Linked DNA regions of Homo sapiens: region 2 is linked to region 1. The links come from fine-mapping of genetic effects on gene expression. A gene starts in region 1. The other region holds a variant in brackets. All regions are shown on one strand. Distances are between the middles of the regions.

Region 1 (10,814 bases):
CAGTGGTAAAACTAATATGTTTACAAAACAAATTTTGATTTAAACAAACCAACAAAATTCCCTTTGATGGCTCTCATTGCACTTAGGTAAAATCCAATCCCCTCCTGGTGGTCCCCAAGGTCCTGATGGGGCCAGACCATCCAGTTGGCACCTAGTTAGTGCTCCTGCTCCAACCCCTCAGGTGCAAGCTCCTCCCTATTCATGGCCCCCTCTCTGTTGGAAACCTTTATCCCGCTCCAGGTCTAACCCTCTTTCATCTCAAGTCTTACATGTTGTATCCCTGGAGAAACTTTCATTAACTTCCCACTCAAAACTGTTACTCCTGTTCCTCTTTTTCATCCCACTTTTCAACTCATTATTAAAGGCACTTATTTCAACATGCGTCATGTCATCTGTGCTGTGATGATTGGTTGACTGTGCATGCTCATCCCAGAGCTCTGTTCTCTTTCTTTTCTGTATCCAGCATTTTTCAGACAGAGGGTTGGGCATGCTTATGGCATCTGGGGGAACAATTCTTTGTACAGTTTATAAGGTTATGCATGATAATGATGCTTAACAAATAACCCCCAAACCTCATTGGTCACAACCAACACTGATATCTCACTCGTGGGCTTGGTACTCGGCTGGGCTTGGGGCTCAGGTCTGCTCTGGTCTCTCACTGGTGTTTCTTGCTTGAGGGCCCAGGTGGAGGGAGGTATGGTTGCCTGAGTATGCGGTCTCCTGGTGAATGGCTTGAGCTTAGGAGAGTGAGGGAACACAGAATGGTTCTTGACACCTCACCCAGAACTGGCACAATCTCCTATCTGCTTACATTTCTCTGGTCAAAGAAATTTTTATGACCTAAAATCAATGCAGGAAGTTTGATGTCTTTAACAACTGGGTGCTAAATGTTGGTAATGCCTCTGCTGTGGTGGGAATGTTTGGGTTACCCCAAAATCTATATGTTGAAATCCTGACTCCCACAAGGTGATAGTATTAGAAGATGGGAGGTGATTAGGGCTCTACCATAATGAATAGGATTGTGCTCTTATAAAAGAGGCCTTACAGAGGCTCCTCACCCTTCTACCGTGTAAGGTGACAATGAGAAGCTGTACATCCATAAGAAATGGGACCTCGCCAGACATTATATTTGGCGATGCCTTGACCTTGGACTTCCCAGCCTCCAGAAGTGAGGAAAATAAAATTTTTGTAGTTTATAAGCCACTCTATAGTATTTTGTTATAGCAGCCTAAAAAGACTAAGACAATCTCCCATGCTCTGTGAAAACTCCAGACTGCTCCTTGGTCCTGAATCTCTACCCTCACCCACATTGAGAGCCCTTCTCTGTACCTGGCACAGAAGAGGCACAGAATGAATATTTGGTGAAAAATTAACTTTGCCAAACTGCCGTCCAAGAACTGTTGTAAAACCTTACTGACTAGGGAATGCTACTGGCATTTGTTTAGTGTCTTTTAAGCATTAATTATTTTTTCCATGCAAAAAGATACCACATTTTAACCTTTTAGAATAAGGCTGAGTTTTTTTTTTTTTTTCAGACATTTAGTGACAATTTCTTTTAGAAATTCTCTATTCAAGTCTTATGCTCATTTTTCTGTTAAATGTTTCTTCCTCATTTGGAAGAATTCTTGTCACAGGTAACAAATATTTTTCCAGTTTGCCTTTTAAATGTTGTAATAATTTTTTGGCAGGCAGACATTGTTAACATTTATACAGCCTCATCTCTCACTGTTTTTGTTCATGGCCTGCTGAAGCACACATTTTCACTATATCAAATGGACAGACTATAATGTACCTAACCAGTCCCTTATTATGGGCTATTTAGATGGTTTATAGGTTTTTTTTCTCATCAGTAACATTGTGATGAAGATCTGATATAAGCCCTGAAAGTGGAAGTATCATATCAAAGAAAATTTTTAAGTTCTTAATATATTTTGTCAAATTACTATTGAAATCTTACTTCCTAGTCCCTATAACTCAGTTCCCCCAAACCCCAGGACTCACATCCCAGACACCCCTTCATCCCAAGACCCACATCCCAGATCCTCATACCCCAGGCCCTGCTGCTGAAGTCCTTACTGGTCAGCCTTGTGCTGAAACAAACAAGGAGAGGACTGAGAGCAGGACTGGAAGGGTAATGGGAAACTGTCCAGAACACCTCAGATGCTCCTTCTGCCAGCAATGCTTTCCCCTGAGGCCCTTCTATGGTGTCCTTTTGGGATTTAGGTCTCTCTCAAATGGCACTGCAAAGCCTAATCCTGGCCCCTTCATCTAAAAGTGACTCTGACTCTAGCTATTCTTTATTGCATTACACTGGTTTTTTTTAATTGTTGTTGTTGTAGTTGTCATTGCTTGTTTTTTGGTTTTTGTTTTTTTTGTTGTTGTTGTTGTTAATTGTAGAGACAGGTTTTTGCCATGTTTCCCAGGCTGGTCTTGAACTCCTGGGCTCAAGCAATCTGCCTGCCTCAGCCTCCCAAAGTGCTGGGATTACAGGTGTGAGCCACCACACCCAAACTACACTGTTTTTCCCCCCTTTAATAGCACCTATTTCTACCTGATATTATCTTATTAATTACATGTTTAATTTCTGTCAGTAATTATCTTGTTTGGTGTGTTGACTGCAGTATCTGCAGCATCAGGAACAGTTTCTGGCACAGAGAAACTCTTCTCAAATTGACTGCTTATTGGAATCACCTGTGAAGCTTTGAAAATCCCATTACCTACCCCCGACCAAAAGAAAGAATTGTTTAGTTATTAAATCACTTTACAAAAAAATGTAAATATTATTTTCTCCAGGAGATAGAGAATGTAGCAGATATTCTCAAACATGTTTATTTACTACTGTGTAGTTGGCCCCTTGTTGAATCCTTTTTAATGTAGCTAATAGAGTGTGGTTGTACAAACTATGAAAGTTATTGAAATTCTTTGATAAAACTATCATTTTTGGGGGAAAACGTATTGGAAGAACTCATCCAAGTGTGTGTGTGTACACGCTGTGTTTTTCTAACCTTCAGTCCAGAAGTAGAAGGGGTTTAAATCTGCTTGCACTGCCTGTGCCTCCATTATGTTACTGTAGAAATGTGACATGCTAAATATAGGATGGTGCATTATAAAATTGTACCGCTTGAGAATAGACCAGCATGCCATTAAGAATTTTTAGGAAGAACTCATTTAACCTAAGAGCTCTTTGTTTATGGATTTTGAATTTTATATGCCACTGTGATCTATAAAGAAACAAATCCATAATGAAGTCACTATTCACTACTGTGTTGTATATAAAACAATATGTTCCAAGGCAAAAAATTCAATATTCATGCCTCTCCCTAGCCCAATTAAATCAGGATTGCTAAGGGTGGAATCCAGGTGATTCCAATGTGCAGCCAAGTTTGAGAGCTACTGACATAGAAGAAACTCAGCAATATTTGTTGGATGGATGGATGGATGGATGGATGGTTGGATGGGTGAGCAAAAGAACATGGGGAATGAGAAATTTGGGGCTCTGGTTCTAGCACTCCCTCTAATGTGCTGTGTGACCTCGCTGTGTCACTCTACTTTACTGAACACCCATTGTTGCACTACATGTAGAAGGAATGAGAGAAGCCTGAAGACAGAATAATTAAAGCTTTATAGAAAACTTCCGGCTGGGAGCGGTGGCTCACGCCTGGAATCCTAGCACTTTGGAAGGCCGAGGTGGGCGGATCACGAGGTCAGGAGATCGAGACCATCCTGGCTAACACAGTGAAACCCCGCCTCTAGTAGAAATACAAAAAATTAGCCGGGCGTGGTGGCGGGCGCCTGTAGTCCCAGCTACTCGGGAGGCTGAGGCAGGAGAATGGCGTGAACCCGGGAGGCGGAGCTTGCAGTGAGCCGAGATCGCACCACTGCACTCCAGCCTGGGTGACAGAGCGAGACTCCGTCTCAAAAAAAAAAAAAAAGAAAAAAAAGAAAGAAAACTTCCTCCAGAACAAAGCTAAGCCTAACAGGAAGCTCTTTACTATGTGTATTAGGCCATTCTCCCATTGCTATAAAGAAATACCTGAGACTGGGTAATTTATAAAGAAGAGGTTTAATTAACTCACAGTTCTACAGGCTTTACAGAAAGCATGGCGCCGGCATCTGCTTGGCTTCTGGGGAGGCTTTAGGAAGATTACAATCATGGTGGAAGGTGAAAGGAGAGCAGGCATGTCACATGGTGAAAGCAAGAGCTAGAGAGGATAAGTGCCACACTTTTAAACAGCCAGATCTCGTGATGAGTGACTCAGTGTCAGGAAGACAGCACCAAGAGGATGTTGCTAAACCATTCACAAAAAATCCACCCCAACGAGCCAATCACCTCCCACCAGGCCCCACCTCCAACACTGGCTATTACATTTTGACATGAGATCTGGGTGGGACAAATATCCAAACTATATCACTATGGTACCTCTTTACCCACGAACTGGAAAGTATTTGTGAGGCTCCAAAGAGGAACATCACACAACTCTGTACTCAGTGTACAGAAGAGAGACAGAATGACTGATTTCTAGTCCTCAGATATCACACTTGGGAGACACAATTTGTGAGGGTGCCTGGAGTGAAGGGAAAGGGAGAGAGATGGATTGATCTGAGAGATTCCTCACAAGCCTCCTTGTCTGCATTGGCTGTTAAAGGTCTTCTTCAAGACTGTGAAGGGTTTCTGCTCTCAAATATGGGCTGCTTAAACTTTCTTTTTCTTTTTTAAGAGACAGTGTCTTGCTATATTGCCCAGGCTTAAGTGCAGTGGCTATTCATGGTCATGATCCCACTACTGATCAGCACAGAAGTTTTAACCTGCTCTGTTTCTGACCTGGGCCAGTTCACCACTCCTTAGGCAACCTTGCTCCCTGGAGGTCACTGTATTGATACCAAACTTAGTGCAGATCTCTGATTGGCATAGCTTACTAAAGCCCAGAACTCCTGGGCTCAAGCGATTTTCCTGCCTCAGCCTCCCGAGTTGCTGGGACATAAGCAGGTGCCACCTAGCCCTGTTCAAACTTTCTTGACGATATTATGGCTGTTTTGCTGAGATTTTTTTTTTTAAGCATGCCCCATGCCCCTCAACTCTGTTACTGTCACTCTACACCTGTTGTAACATAGGACAGTTTCTTTTTTTTTTTTTAGACAGAGTTTCACTCTTGTTGCCCAGGCTGGAGTGCAGTGGCACAATCTCAGCTCACCGCAACCTCCGCCTTCCCAGTTCAAGTGATTCTCCTGCCTCAGCCTACCAAGTAGCTGGGATTACAGGCATGCGCTGCCACGCCCGGCTAATTTTGTATTTTTAGTAGAGACGGCATTTCTCCATGTTGGTCAGGCTGGTCTCGAACTCCCAATCTCAGGTGATCCACCCGCCTCGGCCTCTCAAAGTGCTGGGATTACAGACATGAGCCACCGCGCTCGGGAAGGACAGTTTCTTACTGAGGAAGTTAGCTACTCATGCTTATTTAAAACATTGCAAAAGCATTATAACAGGGAACTCAGGGTGTGGCCTGAGTCCTGTTATTCTCCAGGCTGCTATTATATACAGCTGTTTAGGCTTGCCTGCTATGTGAGATCTTACTACCTGTTCCTAGGCATCAGTACCTGTCTGGTCACTCAACAGTGGCCACAAATTATTATCACTCTCCATTCCCCATCAACCTATACCATTTCAGTGAATGACAGTTTTAAAACTACAAAAACAACACATTTGGGAAGTTATGAGAGTAGAAATTGAAGTTTATTGGCTTCACAAAGGATAAGAGCAAGATATACCACACAGGAGGGTTCCCATCTCAATACCTTAACTTGCATATTCAGATTATTCAAATTATTGGGGACCAGGGTTTGGGGATCGTGCACAGCTTTGAGTAATATTTGCTAGTTATATTTAAGAACAAAATGGCATCCTTAGGGCAGTTCCAACTATTTGTGAGCTCTGGCTCCAGACAAACCTCTGTCTGTCAGGATGAACTCCAGGAGGAGTACAAAAGGTGCAAAAATAAAATAAAATAGAAAACATCATATATATATACACGTATATATATACACACATATATACACGTATATATATATACACACATATATATATATACACGTATATATATATAGTTTTTAGACAGGGTCTTGCTCTGTCACCCAAGCAGGAGTGCAGTGGTGTTATCATAGCTCACTGCAACCTCAACCTTCCTGGCTCAAGCAATTCTCCCACCTCAGCCTACCGGCTAGCTGGGACCACTGGCACCGGGCTAATTTTCTTATTTTTTGTAGAGATGGAGGTCTCACTATGTTGCCCAGGTTGGTCTCCAACTCCTAGGTTCAAGTGATACTCCCGCCTCGACCCCCAAAGTGCTGGGATTACAGGCATGTGCCACCGCGCCTGCCTACTCTTTTAAAGACGCTAGGGATGCAAAGAAGAGACGAAAGCAAACACGAAACCTTTTTGATCTCAAGGAACTAAAGGTCTGAGTCTGACACTTCCCATCCCACACACATATACAGAGGGAAGGATCTCTTCTCCAGCAAAAGTTTTCACGAAAGTCATCTCTTTCCTCATTGCTTAAAAGAAACAAAAAGCCAAGAAGCCGTTATGGAGCGGGTGTGGGGGCCTGTGACCTTTTGTCTAGTTGCCATCCTCCGGGACCAACAAGGGGTACATCAAATAAGGGACGCGGCGGCTCAAATGACATGAACATAGGAGTCCGCATTCTCTGAGATGTCATTCCTCCAGGAAGACCCAGGAACCGTGAATAGGGCGGGGTGGTGGGCAATATCTGAAGCGAGGTTTCCTGGGAACGCGATGCCACTGGCCAGGACGCTGGAGAGGGCAGCGGGCTTGAAGAATCCCTTCTCAAGGGGTCCGTTCCTGGGTCGTATATGGAGAAGTCTGTCCAAGCGTGTGTCTGTAAGGTCTAGAGCCGGGCGTGCATTCAGAATCCTCAAGCTCATCTGTACTTGGACTCTGACCCTGAAGCGAGGCGGTTTCCGAAGTCTGATTCACCGAGGGGACAGGACCTATTTGGGGCATCCGATGGCAGCGAGAAGAGAAGGGAGCCGAAATGCAAAATATTCTCAAGATGCAGGAGGAACCCCTCTCAAAGAGCGCCACGGAGAAAACTTCAGAGTACGGGCGCGATGATCCAGCACAACGCCAGGACCTGCAGCCCAGCCCACCTCTCCCCGGGCTGCTGTGGCGCAGGCGCAGTGGCGCCGCGCTCCGGCCCCAGCGCGCATGCTCTGCCCGGCTGCGGCGCTTCGGGCAGGCGGCGGCGGCGGCGGCGGCGGCGGCAGAGGGAGTTTCCGCTTTGTACTCCACCCCGGTAGCAGCTCCGCGGCAGGGACAGCTTCCTCCGGACGCTTGGCGGGCTTCGCTCTCGCCTTACGACAGCCCGGTCGGATCATGGGGTTGCCCAGGGGGCCGGAGGGCCAGGGTCTCCCGGAGGTAAGAACGCCTCCTCCTTCCCTGACACGTCGGGGTTCCTGAAGAGAGGGCCGAGCCGCGGGGCGGCGGGCTGAGCGGGCCCTGGGTGCGTTAGGGGCGCCCCGCCCCCTTCCTCAGGCGTATCCACCTCAGGGAAGCGCCGACCCTCTTCTTGGAGGCGGGGAGCAGGTACCCCTGCATGGGCAGGGGGCGGCGGGCGGGTGAGGACAAACTTAAGCCGCTCCCGGGTCTCTTGGGGCGCAGGTGGCCTTCCTAGCCCGACACCTGCTCTGACGCAGCCCCACGCGCCGCGGGGTCCTGGGCTCCCACCTTTCTCCCTGTCCGGGACGGGCTCCCCCACCCCGCGCCGCAGGGCTAGCCCCGAGGGCCGAGGCTGCTGGGCGCTGGAGTCACGAGACCGCTCTCCGAGGCGGTTCGGGCTCGGGTGGTGACCTTGGGACGTCTACCGCCACCCCGCAGAGTCCCGGCGGCCCGCCCCACCCGCCTTGCTGTCGGGAGGGAATGCCACCCTCCTTGCGTGGACCCGGGCCGGGGCGGCGGGAGGAAGTTTGGGAGACTTGCGCGCACCAGGGAGGTGTCCCGCTGGGTCAGCGCGCCGGGGCGTTCGGGGTGGGACGCACTCCAGGGGTGCTGTGTGGCGGGGGACCCGGCTCTGGGCGGAAAGGCTGCGGCTTCTCCAGAAGAGGGCGGGGTTCTTTTCCAAAGGTGTTTGTTAAGTACTCACTTAGTGCTAGGGAGGGGGTCATGAGTGGTTTGCGGATTTCCACGTTTGCTGGGAATACAGGGAAAGTGTATTCATTTTCTTTTGGCTGCAAATACCACTTAGCATCTCATAGGTAGTTTGCATCTGTCGTCCCTTTCAGTTGATTTTACTCAAAGGCTAGTCTAGTTTACTGGATTCTGGAGAGAAATGGAAGCCACGCCGCACCTCTGCCTTTTTCCTAAGGTTCTGGAGCAGGCATTGGGCAGGGTGACTGCTTGCTTGACGTGGTGAGTCGTCCCTTCACACTTACCTGCCAGTGACCAATGTTACTCCTCTGCATTCCTCCCAAATCCTCAGTTCTTTCATATCACAAGTATCCACTAATTGAGGGATCACTGTGTTCTGTGTCCAGAAGCTGGGAATATATATAGTCTGAAAGGACAGATTTGTTTGTCAGTGTGTGCTCCCCGAATGCAAGTCCATTTTGTTGTCTTAAGAAAACCTGACAAGCATAATGTTGTCAGAACCCCTGTATTAGGTAAAATCTTACATGCACGTTGCCTGGGATGGGACCCAGGATAGTGAACAATAGGATTTGTACTGTGACATTTGAAGTTTTCTTTTTTGCCACTTCTGTATTCTAGGCTCTCATCAAGTTTTTGCCTGGCCTTTTGCTGTAGACTTCTGTCTGGTCTCCCACGTTCTACTTTAAATCCGTCCAACCCAATATTCCACAGTACTATCAGTGGAGGTCTTTCTGGGGGGAAAATAAATAAATTAATTAATGAAGAGCAACCTGCTGCTGTATGTCCTTCGTTTAAACTTTCACTGACTGCTAAGAGGCCACACTCACCAGGTCAAGCAATAACTTATCATCATTTAGTTCAGAAGCTAGTAAATATAAATATGGATAGTCTGTGTTATTAGGATGTCACTAGACCAGTTAATTCATTAAATTCATTCTTTTTTTTTTTTTTGAGACAGAGTCTCACTCTGTCACCGAGGCTGGAGTGCAATGGCGTGAGCTCGGTTCATTGCAACCTCTGCCTCCCAGGTTCAAGCAATTCTTATGCCTCAGGCTTCCCAGTAGCTGGGATTGCAGATGTGAGCCACTGCCCTGCCCGAATTCATTCTTTTTAACCCTTTACAAAGATAGCTAGACTTGGCCTGCCTTCCAGCTTACAACAACTATAGTGGACGGAAATTGAAAGTTTATTGGGCTTTGTGTAAGAGCTCATTGTTGTTTGTCTTTGTCAGAAATTTAGCTTCAACAACTGGATGTATTAACCAGCCTGGTGGATTTTTATTGCTTCAAGAGAGGGTCTTTCATTCCCAGCAGATCAGACAGTGGCCCTTTTCCATTTGATTTCAGTGTTAATCTGCTAAGTGAATTTGGAGTCATACATTCCCATTTAGTGTCTTGTGCCAAAATTACTTCACAAGTTATATTGCAAAAGTAAACTTCTCCATGCTAGGGGTGAGTGGATGGAAGCCTGGGCCCTGCATCTGTGGTGGGGTGGCCAGTGGGTGTCCATTAGATAGGTGTTGAGGCAGTGATGATCCTATTTTTTTTTGGTTTTTTTTGTCTTCTTCTCATGTTTTCATAATAAATGATTGAACAAATGAAGTGTTCCTGTTTTACACCCCAGAAGTTTTAAGAAAGTACTTATATTATCTCATTTTCTTTTTCTGCTGACTTGAACTACAACTACTCTTTAGCTTCTCTTTTCTTAGAGTGTTTTCACTTGTAGACGTTTCTCAACCATCCCAGATTTTTTGCAGAAGGGAGAGAAGGTGTGAATTATTTATATTACTTAAGAAAATTTTTATGTCCACTAGGAACTAGTGAATGCTGATCTTCAGGATCCTTAATGGACTGGACCAGGGTCATTTCAGAGACGGATGTAGCTCAGTGCTGTCACCTCCCCCACGCCACTCCTACTCTATTGCAGGGGATTATCAGTCACTTTAATAATTCTGTATTAACTATATTTTAATATGTATACTCCCTTTCCTGGCAGTTTATACATCAAAATAAACTTTCCATTGTCAGGGATGTGATCACTGAAACATTTTATTAATACATGACTGGTTTAGGTTCACTTACTTTATGTAAGCATTAGTAGATCATTCTTTATTTAATAAGTGTGTCCTTGGAGCTTAATGTTGTTTGGATTCAGAGGAGTAAACCCAAGTATATAATATATAGTCCTCTCGTTAATCAATCAGTAGTCCAGTTGCAAAGACAAGCATGTGTATAACACTAGATATCTCACTTTGAAGAGGTTGATACTTAGTTATATGTACAGTATATAGTTGATACTTAGTTATATGTACAGAAATGCTGAGGAGAGTGGCCATTTCAGGATAGACTTGTGAGGGATGGTGTTGCATGGGAGCTGGAATTTGAAAGTGATTTCTCAGTGGTTAGAGAATATAGCCATGGCCTTGTCTTGATTGTTTTTGGGGTAGTTAAAGGATGAACCTGAAAAGATAGTTTGGTGGCCAAAGATCTGAATGTGAAACCAGACATCTGGAGTTTATCTTACAGGCAGTGTGTGTGGTGCATTGTTGATAAGGGCTGGGAGGGTGAGCTAAAGAGGGATAACATGAAAGCTGTGATTTAGGAAGGGATGAGCAAAACAAATTAAAGGAAGAAAGATGAAGAAGCATTTGCAA
Region 2 (11,309 bases), 200 kb after region 1:
TTAGGCCTCTGGCTGTTCTACCCACACGATGAATATATTCCTTTGGTGGAGAAAGAAAATCTGAGTTAACGCAGTGACTTCCACATGAGCCCATTTGCGTATCTGCATCCTGAGTATGTGCATGTCTGTACTGAGATGGTGTAGTCCCACGGTGCTGGGCCACACACACCTTCACCACACCCCCACAAAGCTGGGCCAGCAATCGCTCTGTGCACATCACCCCCAATAGGCCAATGATTGAGGCCCAAAAAAAAAAAAAAAAAAAAAAAAAAAAGGCTGGACATGATGTTTGCATTAACAGCGATCTAATAAAATGAGTATTATGTGTGCTTCATCATCAAAACGGCTTTAATCCAGTGTTTGTTGAAAATACTTCTCAATGAAGCTTATTCTACCACATATACTACAGAAGTTTATCTACTTCCTTAAGCAATTTTATTTCCTTCAGGCATCTGCTGTTCTTAAGAGATCATTCCAAGGATCTCATTTTCATAACTTAAGTCCCACTGATCCTTTTCAATCCTCTGGCACAGCCCGTTTGAGCCCTGAAAAGCCTTAAGTACTTTTCAATACCAGAGAAATACTGCAGTCACTGTATAGTAGGGATCTTTACCTTGAATGTGGAATGCAGTTTCCGTCAGGGAACTGGGAGAATAAGTGAACTTTTAATGCAGAGTCATTCTGAAGATATTCCAAAGATGCCAGTTACCTTAGGGTCATCCGGAGGGTCATACTGAACAATCCAGTCGACTTCAGGAATGTCTAGTCCTCTCGCTGCCACATCCGTACACAATAGTGTTCCCGAATCTGCATTGCAGAACTGGAAGAATGTGGTTGTACGCTTATTTTGCTTTTGCTTTCCCTAGAATTAAATAAAAACATCCATTAGAGCTGGAATCTTGAGGAAGACTAGCAGTAGAACCCCCAAATTGTGGAACTGTTACCCTATTTCGAGCTCATCCCTTGGCCTATGTCCTATTTCCCCAACTGTTCCGCAAGCCCCTCAAGGAGGATGGTGTCTTGCACTCTTCGAAAGTCCTCATACCCCTCCACACCCAGCAGCGCTCCCCCACACAGGATCCATCATCTAGTGGTGATCAAACTACTCAGAACAATGTTTCCAGGAGAGGGCAATACCTCCAATCCTACAATCTATAGGATTTAATAAGCATACCCTGTTTTCAATGAGCTCATCATCATCACTTACATGAATGGCCAAGACGGGCAAATCAATGTAGTTCAGCAACTCATAGTGGTATTTCACAGACATACAAGATGAAAAGAAGACCATAAGCTTCTTCTTTCGGTTCTTCTTAAGGAATGTAAAGAGCAGAAGGAATCTCTTTTCAGAAGGACAAACAACATATCCCTAGAAAGCGTTTAAGCAGACAGATACAAATGAACCAAGTGGACATTTTCCATTTCCTAACTTGTGTAATTTCATCAAGAGCACTGATAAACACAGTGTGTAAACTGTCATGCCTCACCTACAGCATTTTAAAAGTTCATTAACCCATTTGCTTTCTGAATGATCCTTCCAACAATTACATAAAAACACCAAGTAAGATCCCTACAGTTTTCAGTTATTGATAAAAAGTACCTGTTCAAGACCATCCACTGTTGCATTCGCTTTATCATCATCAACGCCAACATACAATGGCTCCTTTTTCAGAGAAATCCTTGCCAGGTCTTCAACTTTTCGAGTTTGGGTGGCAGAAAAGAGCATAGTCTGTCTACGTGCTGAAACAGATACATATAAAAATAACCCCAATCTTTTAGGGAATCTTTACAATTGCCTCACAACTACAAATATTCTAGGTAGAGATATCAGAAATGGGAGATATGATGTTTCTACAGAATCTACAAATATTACAAAAGGTAAAAAGGGTATATCATGAAACACTAGGTCTATAAATTTGAGGACTTAGATGAAATGGACAAACTCCTTTGAAGACAAACAACTGAAGAAAATAGGAAAACTTTAAATAGCCTTATATCTACTAAAGAAATTTTAGTTATAACCTTCATGTAAAGAAAATTCCAGGCCCAAATGGATTCCATTGGTGAATTCTACTGAACATTTAAGAAAAAAACATCAATTATTCACAAACTCTCCAATAAATTAAAAAGAGGGCTTACATGTCAACTCATTCTTCGAAGTCAGTCATTACACTATACAAAAACCTGACATGACATGACAAGAAAACTATGGACCAATACAATTCGTGAGCACATATACAAAATTTGAAATAGAATTTTAGTAAAGTGAATTCAGCAATATATAAAAAGGATAATGGCTCATGTTTATTCTAGAAATGGATCAGGTTTATTCTAGAAATGCAGGTTGGTTCAACATTTGAAAAATCAACCAATACAATTCACTATGTTAACTAAAGAAAAAACATGATTATTTCAGCAGACAGAAAAAAAACATTTGACCATCTATTTCTGATTAAAAATCCTCAGCAAACTAGGAACAGAAGGGATCTTCCTCAATCTGATAAAAGGCATCTATATAAAACCTGCAGCTAACTTCATATGTAGTTAATGGTAAAAGACTGAATGCTTTCCCCTAAGATCAGAACCAAGATAAGGATGTCTGCTCTCACCACTTCTATTCAGCACCATACTGGAGGTTCTGGCCAGGGCAATCAGGCAGGAAAAAAAAATTAAATAAAGAGGTGAAACTGTCTTTATCTGCACATGATTGCCTATATAGAAAATCCAAAAGGCTACAGTCATCTGGAAAGTCATACTGAATAATCATTCGGTACAGGATTAACTGTCTTGCTAGATACAAGATCAATATAAAATTCAACTGTGTGTGCATATATATGTGTGTATATGTGTGTGTGTATATATGTATATATTAAAGCAACGAGCAATTGGAACTTGAAATTTTAATGAAACACTCAGAGATAAATCTGACAAAAGATGTGAATAAACCTGTATCCCGAACCCCCCTAAATATGATAGAGAAAATATCGAATACATGGAGATATACCTTATTATGGGTTACATGACTCAATACTGTCTTCCTCCAATAATCTCTATTCAATAAAATCTCAGTCAAGATCTGAGACTTTTTTGGAGGGAAGGGGGAGAAACTGACAAACCAATTCTAAAATTTATATAGAAAAGCAAAGGACAAGAATACCACAACTTTAAAAGAGAACAAACTTGGGGCTAACATTACCTGATGGTCAAGACTTAATAGGAGGAACTGGAACTTTCATACACTGCTCATAGGAATGTTAAATGGTACAGCCGCTTTGGAAAACATCTGGCAGTTTTTTAAAAAGTTAAACATACACTAAACATATACCAACTAGGACACTCCTAGGTTTACTTAAGAGAAAAGGAGATATATGCCTCTACAAAGAGTTGTAGATGACTGTTCACAGCAACTTTATTTCCAGAAAATGCAACCTAATCTAGCAGCAGAAAACAGATCAATACTCACCTGGGGACAAGGTATACGTGTAAGGAGGGGTGGGAGGGAGAAATTGAAAAGGGGCAGGAGGAAACCTTTGACTGTGATGGACATGTTCATTTTCTTGATTGCAGCGATGATGTCACAGTGGTAAACAAATCAAAGAACATCAAATTGTACATTATAAATGGGTAGATATAATTATACTTTGACAAAGCTTTTAAAAATAAATTATATAATGAAGGAAACCATGGTCTTAGTTATAACCAGTTCATAATGTTGCAAGTACTATAACCAAGGTATGTACAAGTAAGGCAAAAAATCTGCGGCTTCTTGGGGGATGTTAGATGAGGTAAGAATGGGCAAGAGGTGGAGGACAGGACCTATGTGAAGACTGCTTAACGTGCCTTATAACTTCTAAAACAGCAAAACTATTATATCAAGTTATAATACATTTGATGCTTGTATTCCAAATTACCTTTCGGGTTAATTGGCACAACTACCTCACTTGGCTATGGTAAAGTTCTGGCATTAGTACAGTTTTTCTATAGGAACAACTCTTATCTACCTCCAACAGATACTTTGCAAACCAAATGCAGATGCTACCTACTTACTTGGCAAAAGTTTAATAATTTGCTTTAATTCCTCTTCAAACCCCACATCCAAGATACGATCAGCTTCATCAATAACCAGACACTGCAGGTTTTTATACATAAATCCTGGGGTATTCTAACAAAACAAAGGACAAAGAACAACCATTAGTTGTCAGTTTATGTTTCATACAAGACAATGAGACAAGCACTACATCTCTTACCTGCATATGGTCCAGCAGACGGCCTGGTGTGGCCACAATGATGTTGATCCCATTACCAAGTTTCTGTGCTTCAGCAGATCTGTTACTGCCACCCATTATCAAGCCATAGGTATGCACGTGGTGAGTCATCAGCTCCTTAAGAACACCAAAGGTTTGCATGGCTAGTTCTCTAGTAGGTGAGAGAATAAGGACTCCTGTTCCTAAAAATGATATATGGTAGAAGTCTAAATGTGGCTGTCACCACTGAGTCCGTAACAGCTACAATAAACCTCTAGTGAAATAATGGCAGAAACAAGCAGATGAACGCTTACCATTCCTGGGCATGAACCTTAACTTAACAATGAGTTCAACTGCAGGGATGAGAAAAGCCAGGGTTTTACCACTGCCTGTTTTTGCAGCTGCTAGAAGATCCCTAAATATTAAAAAGGGAAAGGAGAAAGACATTTAGCCTACTCATTTACGACGTACTACATACACACACCTTAGGCACTACGGCTAGAACATGAACAAGAAACGTCTACAGTGCTGAAATTGATCACCTGGGTTATATAC[T/C]GAAATCATAAGTCAGAACTGTGCTACAACAGAAGCAGAACACCTTTCGAACACTTTCCTTCAAACATCAGTAATTAACTTAAAGCCTTTAATGTATGCTGGATACATGACCCAACATATAGTACAAAATCAACAGAATATACTGGTATGTTCTTTATCATCTACTAGTTCTAAAAATAGATGCCAATATCTAAGCTTCAATGTTAATCATACCTGCCTTCCAGAAGTGGTCTGATACTTTTATGCTGAATTTCAGTCATGTTTGTAAAACCCATTTCTTTTATTGCCTTCAGAGTGTTTTCATTGACAAGATTACATAGAGAAGCAAACGAAGTATCCTCAAAAGCTCCTAAACAGAAGACAATTTATCATTAGCAAATTTATCTTTTTTTTTAAAAAAGTATTGCTACAGTTGCCTAAATCTATTTTGCTTAGAAAAGCTTCCCGCAGTAAGAAAAGGCTAAACCTTAATTATTCATATGTGATAATATCAAGAAAAAGACCCTATATCTTTCAAGTTTCTCCACTGTTAACGGCTGTGTGAGTTATAGTCCAGAGACCATACTATAACAAAACAAGGGGTAGAGAGGAGGTATAACCAAGGAATTTATATAAAATAAAAATACCAAAACAAGGAAAATAATGAGAGTCCAGAGATAAATGAAATGTTTAAGAAATCTGATATAAAAGTGAAAACATTGAGCATTAATAAAAACTGAGTGTGAAGTCAATAATAAAAAAAAAACCTGTTAATCTCACTCCAACAAGACACAGAAGAGTCAGATACAGCCACAGAATGTTAGGCTGAGCCTACGTATCAAGTAATACAGTGGTGGTTCAGCAGAAGGCATCAAAATCACCTGGGGGTTCCCCATACTCCACATGCCCAGGGTGTAAACCAATCACTCTTGACCTTGGCATTGCTGACATCTGGGCTGAATAATTCTTTGCTGTGAAACACTATCCTGTGCCTTATAAGATATTATGCAGTGTTTCTGACCTCTACTCACCAGATCCCAGCAGACTGCTCCTAGCTCTGAGAACCAAAAATGTCTCCTAGGCTTAGGATGACCAATCTTCTCAGTAGGCTAGGGACAGAGGAGATTCTTGGGATTCAGAACTTTCAGTGCTAAAACTGTTAAAGTTCTGGGCAAACCAGGAAGAGTTACTCTTCTTACTCGGGGGGCGAATTTCCCTGCTCGAGAGCTACTACCAAAACGTTTGCAATTTGGATTAAGCAGGTCTAGGGTTGGGCCTCAACATTTTAACAAACCAACCAACCCAAACCAAATAAACAACTCAAGTAACTCCTAGACATATCTGGTTAGGAGCAGTGAATTCTAGCCTAAACTCAACTTTATAAAGGAACAAAGGCCAAAGGAGGTTAACCTCGTACAGGGCCAATCATTTTCCTATTACAACATAGAATGAGACTCAGAAAAGGACAAACCAAGGAATCCTAGAAGCTGCTAGTGTGCATATAAAATATTTGGTGTCAGGAATGAACAAAAGGAAAAAAACAGGGAACAAAAAGAACTAAAACACCACAAAATAGAAGATAAAGAGAAAAAGCAGCAGAAAGATATAAAAAAAGTTTCTTGTTGATAGTTACTTTTTTCAGGTAAACTGAAAGTCACAACTGAACCTTCAAACCTATAATCCTCTAAGAGAGGCACATTTTAAAGAAGTTACCTCTAGAAAACTTCCTGGACGTTACCTGTCAGTCCCAGGGGCAGACTGGGCACCTCACTCTCATCTTCATCATTATCTGGCTTCTCCACATTATTTTCTGTTTCTTTAGTAGTCTCGGCACTTTCTTCTTCAGATTTCCCTTTGTTTTCAGTTTTTGCTTTTTTCGTATCTTTGGTTTTAAAAGACAAAATCCGAAAAAATTTTTCCTTAAAATAGAATTCCAAATGAGATCAACAAACAGAAGATCTCTGATATAAAGACGTATATTTTCAAAAGCTAAGTATATGCTGTATTAATTTGTTAAGAATTCTGTTTGGTGAAAAATGAGTGGTTGTATTTAAAAACCCAGGGTACAGACAGACTTGGTGACAAAACCTTTTAGGCTTTTGTTCAACTAAACAGTATAAACATACCAATTATAAGTTTCACATACTCCACTGAGGGGAAAGGAAGCATACCTGATTAACATAATCCTTAAAAACTCATTATAAGTAGTCATTTTTCTTCCCACGCCAATCACTATCAAAGGCTCTTCATGTTACTAGAGATAGACTGTAAAGGAAGGGCAACAACCCACTTGCCTGGCTGACATACACTGGACTGTGCCTTGGCTATCAGGGATGAGGGTGGGAGGAAAGGCAGGGCTTCTTCCCACCCTCATTTCTACATTCACAACTTTCATGTGGCCCCAACTACCTTTTCAGTCCTACCTCTCACTTCTCTTTTCAATGTTCGACTCTGGGTCAAATGGATTAACCACATGCTGTGTTTATATAAAACTATATGGCAATTAGTGATGTTTGAAAAGAACTTAGACCACAACCCAGGACTCTCTGTAGCTCAGTACTGGTCTCCTCCCTGTACCTGACGGCCACCCTTCCAGGAAAGAGTCAACTTTGTAGGACCTACATGTTCAAAAGCCACAGATATCTTCAGCTGGTCTCCATGGCTTATTTTGTTTTCCCTGGAATAGTTCCTAAAATGTACCCATAAGGTGGTTGGGTGTGGTGGCTTCTGCCTGTAATCCCAGCACTTTGGGAAGCCGAGGTGGGAGGATCACTTGAGCCCAGGAGTTCAAGACCAGCTTGGACAACACAGTGAGACCCCATCTCATAATAAAACAAACAAACAAACAAACAAACAAAAAACCCATAAGGTTAAAACGCCCAGCATTGTGATTCAATGCTTGGGAGCAGAAATAATACCACTTCCTGGGGCATACTCAAAACAAGAATTGTGAAGGCAATAATTTTAGAACAGGATTACAATGACTTCTGTGTGTAGGCATCATGAAGACAGTAATGCATGTTTGGAAAAGTTCAAAGTCCCTTTCTAAATAAAACCCTTATTTCAGGTAAAATACATGAATAGGATGTTCCAACTCAGGGGCTGGCAAACTTTCCGCAAAGGGCCAGATAGTAAATAGTTTAGGCTTTGCAGGTCATATGATCTCTGTTGCCATAAACACAACCAAATAGGCATTGCTATGACCCAGTAAAACTTTATTTACAAAAACAGGTAGAAGGAGGGATAGTTTGCTGACCCCTATCTTATCCTACCTTGATATCTCTGCTTATACAAATCTCAATTATAATGTCCATTCTTTCATCCGAGCTTACTGAAATTCCATCATCTTCAAAAAACATTCCTTCCTTTTCCTCCTGCCATTCTTAGCACTTGGAAATTAATGTTCCATTTATTCAGAAGTTTCCTACTTTATATACTTTGTAACTAATATTCCTTTCAAAGGGAGGAATTTATGGAAGGAAAATGGGAAGAATCAAGCAGGAAAAAAGGTAACTTAAAAAGAAGAGAAAATTTCTAGAATTCTAAGGAGAGTCTTTTCTGAGAGAGGTTTTCTTCAAGGTTAGTGAAATTAAAAATATATTCCTCAATATTTTGAGAAAAGTTGAAATGGACTCCCCGCTTCTGCCAATAAAATGTTTCCATTAGCTACCAGGCTAATCTCTAACATACTGGTGAGTACAGGGAATTCTCATGTCATGTGCACACAATAGTAATAGAAAGAGGAACAATAACCGTCTGTGAAAAACTAAATGGCTGAAGTTCAAAGATAATAAATACCTACCAGGCTCAGCATCATTCACCATTTTTCTCTTTTTCTTCTTTTTCTTTTTTGATTCTGAATTGGAAGACTGCATTGCTGCTTCTCCATTGGTTAATACAGTGGATTTCTGGGGAGACTTTGTAACTTTTATATTTCCCACTGCTTCTTGAGACATGCCTCCATTTTGAGTTTCTGATAAGCCCACATTCATGGGCTTTTGTTTTGATTTTTTAACCTTTCTACTTCCCATTGTTTCTTCAGATACATCTCCATTTTGAGTTTCCGATAGGGTCAGATTTGAGGCCCCTGTTTAAATAAACAGAACATATACTGTGACAAAGAAGGAGAAGTTTACTTAGAAACACTGAAATCCCAAATGAGAACTTCCATGGCTTCCTGACACAAATTATTTAGATTTTCTTCTCTTTCATGTAATTAAAACAACTTATAGTTTTATGGTGTTCCCTTATAGGGAAAGTAAGTTATCTTAAAGAAAAAATACTGGAAAAGGGAAAGCTATATTGATTTCTTAACTGCAAAAGACCGTACATCTGACTTTAAGGAGTCTAGGACAGGAAAACTTCAATGAGGTCAAATATTTAAACAGATGAGGTCAGATAATGGCAGTTACAGAATAAACATAAGTATTTGATAAACATATGATTAACTGATATATTGAAAAAGACATTTACAACTCATTCACACAAGTACTATTTTTCATACCACTTCAAAACATTCAACCCCAACTCTTCTAGACTGCAGTGAGTTGAAAATTCAGTTGATAAGACCACTTATTTGCTCCAATATTTATCATATGCAAATACAGTAATGCGTGCACAATGACATTTCTGTGAATTAAGGACAACATATACAGTGGCTCCATAAGATTATAACGGAGCTAAAAAATTCCTATCACCTAGTGCCATCAGTAACTGCAATGTCGTAGTGCAACATATTACTCATGTTTGTAGTGATGCTAGTATAAACAAATCTACTGTAATGCCAGTCGTATAAAGTACAGCACACATAATTATGTACAATACATAATACGTGATAATAAACTATGTTACTTGTTTATGTGTTTACTATACTTTTGATCATCATTTTAGAGTTTACTCCTTTTACTTATTAAAAAAAAATGAGTCGACTGTAAAAGAGCCTCAGGGAGAGAGGTATTTTAGAAGGCACTGTTATCATAGGAGATGACAGCTCCATGCCTATTGTTGCCCCTGAAGATCTTCCAGTGGGACAAGATGTGGAAGCGGAAGACAGTGAAACTGAATGTGTCTGTGTCTTTACATTTTTAACAAAAAGCTTAAAAAGAAAAAAAAATAAAATAAAAATCACATAGAATAAGGACAAAAGGAAACTTTTTGTACAGCTGTATGTACAATGTGCTTGTGTTGTAAGCTAAGTGTTATTAAAGTCAAAAGGTTAAAATTTAACAAGTTTATAATGTAAAAGTTACAGCAGGCTAAGGTTAATTTAAGAATAAAAGTATTAAAAAACTCAACAGTGTAGCCCAAGTGTACAGTGTTTATAAAGTCTATAGTGTACAGTAATGTTCTAGGCCTTCACATTCACTCACCGCTCACTGACTCGCTCAGGGTAACTTCCAGTCCTGCAAACTCCATTCATGGTAAGTACTGTATACAGAGGTACCATTTTCTAAATCTCTCATGTCATAGTCTTTTTACTGTACCTTTTCTATGTTTAGATATATTTAGCCATACATACACTTACCATTGTGTTACAATTCTCTGAGTATAGTACAGTAACATGCTGTACAGGATGACAGCTTACGAGCAACAGGCTATATCATGTAGCCTGGGTGTGTAGTAGATTTAGGTTTGTGTAACTAGATAAAGTTCGCAAAACGACAAAAGCCCCTAATGACACATTTCTCACAATGTATCCCCCCTCCTGTTATGCGATGCATGACTGTACCTGAGAATGTCCTTACCAAAGGTTCCCTGTTTGTTTACTGAAAAAGATAAAACACCATCTTTTGTTCAAATTTACTTACATATGCGCTGAAAAGTAGTAATGCTGTAGTATTATTCTATAGGAATTAGAAATACAAGAGTATTTCAAAACATATTCCTAAAATTCACAAACCTATTGCCTCCTGCAGAATTTTTTTTCAATTAATGTCTGTTGAAAACCAACTGGGGCAAGGCACTGTGCCTCCAAACTTTCCCTCGGGGAGTTTGTATCTTAACCTGGACAACAGGTTAACACAATTACTTCAAGATCTGTGGCCCCACTGTCAGGACACTGGGACTGCAAATGAGGTAGGTAAGAAAGGTGACATTCAGATAAAATCCTTTTCATTTAGGTCACTGTGCGGGACACAAATACGTAGAAGCTCTGGTGAGAAAGTGCTACGAGAACGTGTGGAAGTGGGTAGAGGAAGGCAATAGTATCAAAGAAGCTCTGTGGAAACAGCCAGACGGGCTTTTGGGGAAAGAAATACGGGAATTAAATAGATGTGAAAAGTGGGTGGAAATGAGACGTTTCATGCAGCATAACCGGAAATGAGGGATGAGGTGAGGTGCGACTTGCAGGTGGTGAGGGAACCAAAAGCTAAGGTGGAAATGCAAAAGGCAGGGTTAGTCGTAAGCCTAGAAGTGAACGGGGAGTCCTCCCGCTCTAACGTTGTAAGAAGACACTGATTGCTCAGAAAGGTCAGGAGCAGCGCTGGAGCCACGCGACGAGTGGGCAGCAGCGCGGGTCCCGAGTGGAAGCTG

Evidence for each region. PIP is the estimated chance that this variant, and not a neighbour inherited with it, causes the effect.
Region 2: its variant is fine-mapped to the expression of CCDC93 in whole blood (TOPMed, PIP above 0.99).

Annotation. Positions count from the first base shown.
Region 1 is chr2:118,010,572-118,021,385 of GRCh38, reverse strand. It overlaps CCDC93 (CCC complex scaffolding subunit CCDC93), which reads left to right and starts at 7,316. Exons shown (of 24, transcript NM_019044.5): 1 at 7,316-7,432. The coding sequence starts at 7,391. It also overlaps the pseudogene RN7SL111P. RefSeq lists silencers at 7,109-7,308, 7,779-7,828.
Region 2 is chr2:117,815,000-117,826,308 of GRCh38, reverse strand. DDX18 (DEAD-box helicase 18) reads right to left here. Exons shown (of 14, transcript NM_006773.4): 2 at 8,581-8,865; 3 at 6,517-6,660; 4 at 5,013-5,148; 5 at 4,559-4,659; 6 at 4,248-4,447; 7 at 4,048-4,162; 8 at 1,601-1,740; 9 at 1,208-1,369; 10 at 710-862; 11 at 1-40. Among named protein-coding and RNA genes, the nearest start is that of DDX18, 6.0 kb to the right of the region's middle. RefSeq lists silencers at 5,596-5,665, 5,676-5,725 and enhancers at 10,761-11,296, 11,297-11,309. The variant T/C (reference allele first, on the strand shown) is at 4,800.